Linked DNA regions of Homo sapiens. The protein of the gene in region 1 purifies or fractionates together with the protein of each later gene. This does not show direct contact. Each region holds a gene or a part of one and is shown in the gene's direction. Other genes may lie near its edges.

Region 1 (3,306 bases):
GTGGGCAGATCACAAGGTCTGGAGTTTGAGACCAGCCTGGTCAATATGGTGAAACCCTGTCTCTACTAAAAATAAAAAAATTAGCCAGGCGTGGTGGTGGGTGCCTGTAGTCGCAGCTACTCGGGAGGCTGAGGCAGGAGAATCACTTGAACCCGGGAGGTGGAGGTTGCAGTGAGCTGAGATTGGCGCCACTGCACTCCAGCCTGGGTGACAGAGCGAGACTCCGTCTCAAAAAAAAAAAAAAAAAAAGATGTAAGAAGTAAATGGTAATAATATATTGATGGGATAAACATATCGTAAGGTCTTGACATGAAATTGCTCTATACCCAGAAGAATGTTTATTAAGTACACCAACTGTATGTCTATGAAGGTGACCACATGGTGGCTCCCATCCTTAAAAGCTCAGTGGTTGTCAAAGGTGTATGATGACATTGGTTCTTGCAAGTGTCATTAAATAAATGTCTTGCACTGGGCATGGTGGCATGTGCCAGCAGTTTGATCTATTCAAGAGGCTGAGGCAGAAAGATTGCTTGTGCCCAGGAGGTTGTGCTATGATGGTGCCTGGTGAATAGTCATTGCGCTCCAGTCTAGGCAAGGTAGCAAGACACTCTCTCTTTAAAAAGAAAGAAAAGTCTCATGTAGAAGGATGAAGTGAAAAGTTTCATAAGCCAAGTTAGTCTTATTTTTGGATATGACGTCCCAAATATCTGTTGTGTCTCACATCTAGAACACAAAGCAGTCTCAGAATTTTGCCAGCCAAAAGTAAAAAGAACTTTATACAAATTATGAGTATAAATTAGTAGTTTCAAAGACCAGAGTCTTTATGAATTTATTATAAAATAAATAATAGAGCATTGACAGATTTATCAGTAAGGCATAGGAAAAGAAGGGTTGATTGATAATATATGCAATTCACATTATGAAAGGAGTAGTCAGCTAGAGAAAAGGATTTTGAAATGGAAACCTGACTTTTGCTTAGTTAGGAAATAGGGAACGAAGTGGCTGACCTGTTCAGTTTACAGCATGGAAGATGGAGGGAAAATAGGAATAGAAATGAGACATAAGGACTAAATTAATTTGTTCTTATTAAATTTGGTCTGGGAAATTCTTAGTATGCATTTCTTGTTTTTTTAGGCCTTAGGACATTTCATTTGTGATAATTAGAGATATCAGGTGCTTATTAAGCAGTTCATGAAGTGTATAGTGGTTGACTTATAGGACAAATATTTTCATGTCTTGTGCTGGGAATTGTATCATGAGGTCTTAGTCTTATAGGTTGGATTCAGAAGAGAATCTGAATTTAAACTCAAAAGTAACTGCTTTAAGACTCAGTTTAACCTTGGGAAGGTAGTATTGTATAGTGTGTGCTTATAGGTCTGAAGCCAGACTGCTTGAGTTTGAACCCCAGCTTTTTATATTCATCCTAGTTAGGTCTTTGGATAGGAAGGTAAACCTCTTGGCCTCATTTTTATCATGTGTAAAATGGGATAATAATGGAGCCTATCCAAGAGGATTATTTTAAAGATTAAATAATTAGTCGATATGAAGTATTTAAAAAGAGTGCCAGGAATATAATCAGCAATCAATTTTTAAAATGTGAAACACATTACCTATCATTATCTATCCATTACTGCTTATTAGAAAACAGGAATTTTAAGCCTGCTGTGCATTTAACTAATACATGTTTATGTTTATAGGTGGTGAAATTGCCTCTACCTTTGATCACCCAGAACTGGTGAAGCTTGGAAGTTGCAAACTTATCGAGGAAGTCATGATTGGAGAAGACAAACTCATTCACTTTTCTGGGGTTGCCCTTGGTGAGTGATTATGTAGATCCTGGTTAGGGTGTCTAAATTCTTGCTAGGCTCTGTTGAAGTAAAGGTTATTGTAGTTACTAGAATAGCATATCTTACAAGTCTTAACTCTTCAGAAGCATGATACATACTTTGTTTCAGTCTCTTGAGTCAACCTCATATTTACCGTGTCTTTGTGAACAGTGCATGTTCAACAGTTTTTTTTCCTTGATAACTTAGAACCATTATGAGCCTTGATTGTTGGAGAATGTATAATACAGGAAGACAGGTCAGCTTTCAGAACCCAGTAATATAACCAACACCGGCATAAATAATAGAAGGCAAACTTTTTATCCCTAAGTGGTCACTGTGTCTTTTAATTTTAGGTGAGGCTTGTACCATTGTTTTGCGTGGTGCCACTCAACAAATTTTAGATGAAGCAGAAAGATCATTGCATGATGCTCTTTGTGTTCTTGCGCAAACTGTAAAGGACTCTAGAACAGTTTATGGAGGAGGTAAGCATTTAGAAAATGTTGAATATATTTTTAATTTCTTAAAGTACAATATAAGTCATAAGTGGTTTTAATGGTTCTTACAGAAATCTTATATTGCTTTTGCACTAAATTTTAAAATGCTTGGCATATCTTAAAGTCAGTAATTCAGTATCTTGGAGACAACTAAGCATTGCAATATTTTATTGGAATTTTAATCTTTAGGCTGTTCTGAGATGTTGATGGCTCATGCTGTGACACAGCTTGCCAATAGAACACCAGGCAAAGAAGCTGTTGCAATGGAGTCTTATGCTAAAGCACTGAGAATGGTAAGTTAATCAAAATGAGAGATCCGAACTTAAGTTTTGTGGTTATTGATAGTTTTAAAATGAGTAGAAAATGAACTGGTTAATACTGCTTTTAAATTTGATTCTGGAGTTTCTCCTCTTCGTGAGCAGTAACTGAAGCAGATTTTACATTGTTCCTAAATGTATAATTTTAAAAAGCTATCCTAGTTAGGAGTAAATCAGTGGTTCTTACAGTAGAGTGAGTAGTTACTTGTTTTCTTCATTTTCATAGTTGCCAACCATCATAGCTGACAATGCAGGCTATGACAGTGCAGACCTGGTGGCACAGCTCAGGGCTGCTCACAGTGAAGGCAATACCACTGCTGGATTGGGTAAGCAATCAAGGGGAACTTTGTGGCCGTTGTTAAAAGTAACTCTTTTCACTAAGCTTTTTTTTTCTTTTGGAACATAAAGAGTTACAATAACCGTATAAAAGACTCTTTTGGACTTTGTCCTCATAATCATTACATGTGCTGGGAAAATGTGTGTGACTTTATATGCTCAGCATTTCCCAAACTTTGTTATTCCATAAGACATGTAAAACTGGTTAGAAGATTTGTAACTATTTGGTATATAACGACTATAGGATTTAAATATAAACAATACTTACATTCTGAAAAATAACATAAACTATTATGTTGTTTATACAATCAGTATTAACTTCTAATTTCATAG
Region 2 (3,500 bases), on another chromosome or scaffold:
TTCTTTAATGACATAATAGCATAGCAAAAATCACTATTTTTCACTAGTTTTTTTCTCTCTCCCCTTTCCCGCAACTCTCTTCCAGACCCAGCAACCTAAAGAAGATGGAGTTTATGTTTTTCATCCCCATAGTCAGCCAGTTAGCTGTCTTTACTTCTCACCCGCCAATCCGGCCCACATACTGTCACTGAGCTATGATGGCACGTTACGCTGTGGGGATTTTTCCAGGGCTATTTTTGAAGAGGTAAATGTTAATGTGTTTACATGCTGACTTCAGATGATATTCTAGATTCTTCGAAATGCCACATGAATAATTATTATACCAATTGGGAGAAGTGGTATAGCAGAAGGACTTTGAGAACTACGCTGCCTAAGTTCAAATCCCAGATCATCTGTTACTAGTTGTATGACCTTGACAAGTTGCTTAACCTTGTTGTGCCTCACTTTCCTTAGCTGTGAAATGGGATTTAACAGGACTGACCTTACAGGGTTGTCATGAGAATTTAATGAGCTTATGCAGATAAAGTACTTAGAAGAGAGCCTGGCACATAGTATGTGTTTGCGCTTGTTAAATTTCTTTTTTTTTTCTCTCCCAAAGCTTTTAACTAAAATAACTTACTCTTCTGTTTTTAGGCATAAGACTTGTATTTAGCTGGGTGTGGTGGCTCATGCTTGTAATCTCAGCACTTTGGGAAGCCAAGGTGGGAGACTCACTTCAGGCCAGGAGTTCCAGACCAGCCTGGGCAACATGGCGAGACCTTGTCTCTACAGAAAATAAAAAATATTAGCTGAGCTTGGTGGTGTGTGCCTGTAGTCTCAGCTACTCAGGAGGCTGAGGTGGGAGAATCACTTGAGCCCAGGAGTTCAAGATCAGCCTGGGCAACATAGTAAGACCTTGTCTCTAAAAAAAATTAGCTTGGTGTGGTGGCATGTGCCTGTAGTCACAGCTACTCAGGAGGCTGAGGTGTGAGGATTGCTTGAGCCCAGGAGATTGAGGCTGTAGTAAAGCCGTGATCACATACATCATTGCACTTCAGCCTGGGTGACAGAGTGAGACCCTCTCTCAAAATAAGACATCTTCTACTTAATGTTTAAAACAAACATATCATTTGAAATGAACTTTCAGATTTGCTTAACTGTATCAGATTGCCTCAATAAGATAAGTCTTATAAGTTGAACTTTTTTATTTTATTTTTTTTGAGACGGAGTTTTACTCTCGTCACCTAGGCTGGAGTGCAGTGGCGAGATCTCGGCTCACTGCAACTTCTGCCTCCCAGGTTCAAGCAATTCTTCTGCCTCAGCCTCCTGAGTAGCAGGGATTACAGGCACCCATCATCACGCCCGGGTAATTTGTTGTTGTTGTTGTTGTCGTCGTTGTTGTTGTTGTAGAGATGGAGTCTCACTCTGTCGCCCAGGCTGGAGTGCAGTGGTGCGATCTTGGCTCACTGCAAGCTCCGCCTCCCAGGTTCAAGTGATTCTCCTGTCTCAGCCTCCTGAGTAGCTGGGACTACAGGCGCATGCCACCATGCCAAGCTAATTTTTGTATTTTTAGTAGGGACGGGGTTTCACCATGTTGACCAGGCTGGTCTCGAACTCCTGACCTTGTAATCCACCTGCCTCAGCCTCCCAAAGTGCTGGGATTACAGCGTGAGCCACTGTGTGTGGTCAGATTTGCCTCTTCTGGACATTTCATATAAATGAAATCATACAATTTGTGGTCTTTTGTGACTGGTTTCTTTAACAAAATGTATTCAAAGTTCATCCATGTTGTAGCCGTGTATCAGTACTTCATTCCTTTTTATGGCTGCATAATATGCCATTGTATGGGTATTCCACATTTTATTCATCTGTTCATCAGTTGATGAACATTTGTGTTTCTATTCTTTCTTTATATATTTATTTTTGAAACAGAGTCTCGCTCTTGTTGCCCAGGCTGCAGTGCAGCAGTGCAATCTTGGCTCACTGCAACTTCCACCTCCCGGGTTCAAGCAATTCTCCTGCCTCATCCTCCTGAGTAGCTGGGATTACAGGCACGTGCCACCACACCTGGCTAATTTTTGTATTTTTAGTAGAGACAGGGTTTCCCCATGTTGGCCAGGCTGGTCTTGAACTCCTGACCTCAGGTGATCCACCCACCTTGGCCTCCCAAAGTCTTGGGATTACAGGTGTGAGCCACCACGCCTGGCCTTACTTATTTTTATTTTTTGAGATGGGGGTCTCACTCTGTCACTCCAGCTGGAGTGAAGTGGCTTGATCTCGGCTCACCGCAGCCTCTGCCTCCCAGGCTCACGTGATCCTCCCACCTAAGCCTCCTGAGTAGCTGGAACTATAGTCATGTGTCACCATGCTTGGCTAATTTTTGTATTTTTAGTAGAGACGGTGTTTTGCCATGTTGCCCAGGCTGGTCTCAAACTCCTGAGCTCAAGTGATCTGCCCACCTTGGCCTTCCAAAGTGCTGGTATTACAGGCATGAGCCACCGCGCCTGGCTGTAACTTACATTTCAATAAGCTTGACTTTAAAACAATAGGTGGAGAACTCCTATAGCTTAATTAAAAAAGCTAACCCAATTAAAAAATGGGCAAAGGATCTGAATAAACATTTCTTTAAAGAAACACAAATGGCACCGGGTGCGGTGGCTCACCCCTGTAATCCCAGAACTTTGGGAGGCTGAGGCGGGTGGATCACCTGAGGTCAGGAATTTGAGACCAGCCTGGCCAACATGGTGAAACCCCATCTCTACTAAAAATACAAAAATTAGCCAGGCGCGGTGGCAGGCACCTGTAGTCCCAGCTACTGGGGACGCTGAGGCAGGAGAATCGCTTGAACCCGGGAGGTGGAGTTTGCAGTGAGGTGAGATTGCACCACTGCACTCCAGCCTGGGCGACAGAGCGAGACTGTCTCAAAAAAAAAAAACAAAAAAAAACAAAAAAACCCCACAAATGGCAAATAAGCACATGAAAAGATTCTAAGCATCATTATTCATTAGGGAAATGCAAATCACAATGAGATACCCCTTTACACTCACTAGGATAACGATACTTGCCAGTAATAAGTGTTGACAATGATGTGGAAAAATTGAAACCCTCATATTTTGAGAATTGGTATGTGAAATGGTAAAGTTGGTTGGGGAAAGTTTGACAGTTCCTTAAATGTTAAACAGAGTTACCATATGACCTAGCAATATCCCTCCTAGGTATACACCCAAGAGAAATGAAAGCACATGTCCACACAAAAACTTGTACGGGAATGTTCATACAAGCATTATTTGCAATAATACAAAGAATAGGTTGGGCATGGTAGCTCACACCTGTAATCTCAGCACTGACAGAGGCCGAGGAGGGTGGATCACTAGAGCTCAGGAGTTCAAGACCAGCCTGGCCAACATAGTGAAACCGCACCTCTAAAAGAATACAAAAATTAGCTGGGCGTGGTAGCATGCGCCTGTGGTCCCAGCTACTTGGGAGGCCTGAGGCATGAGAATCACTTGAACCTGGAAGGG

Evidence for each region. Proteins that work in one complex are often made in the same cells at the same time.
Region 2: the proteins of CCT2 (region 1) and WDR76 purify together in Homo sapiens (affinity purification with mass spectrometry; 4 studies listed by BioGRID and IntAct, with this or other methods). This does not show direct contact.

Annotation. Positions count from the first base shown.
Region 1 is NC_000012.12:69,595,459-69,598,764, forward strand, and holds part of CCT2 (T-complex protein 1 subunit beta), read left to right. Parts: intron 1-1,697; coding exon 1,698-1,817; intron 1,818-2,179; coding exon 2,180-2,308; intron 2,309-2,509; coding exon 2,510-2,613; intron 2,614-2,863; coding exon 2,864-2,963; intron 2,964-3,306. UniProt on the Homo sapiens protein: Component of the chaperonin-containing T-complex (TRiC), a molecular chaperone complex that assists the folding of actin, tubulin and other proteins upon ATP hydrolysis.
Region 2 is NC_000015.10:43,851,002-43,854,501, forward strand, and holds part of WDR76 (WD repeat-containing protein 76), read left to right. Parts: intron 1-85; coding exon 86-244; intron 245-3,500. UniProt on the Homo sapiens protein: Specifically binds 5-hydroxymethylcytosine (5hmC), suggesting that it acts as a specific reader of 5hmC.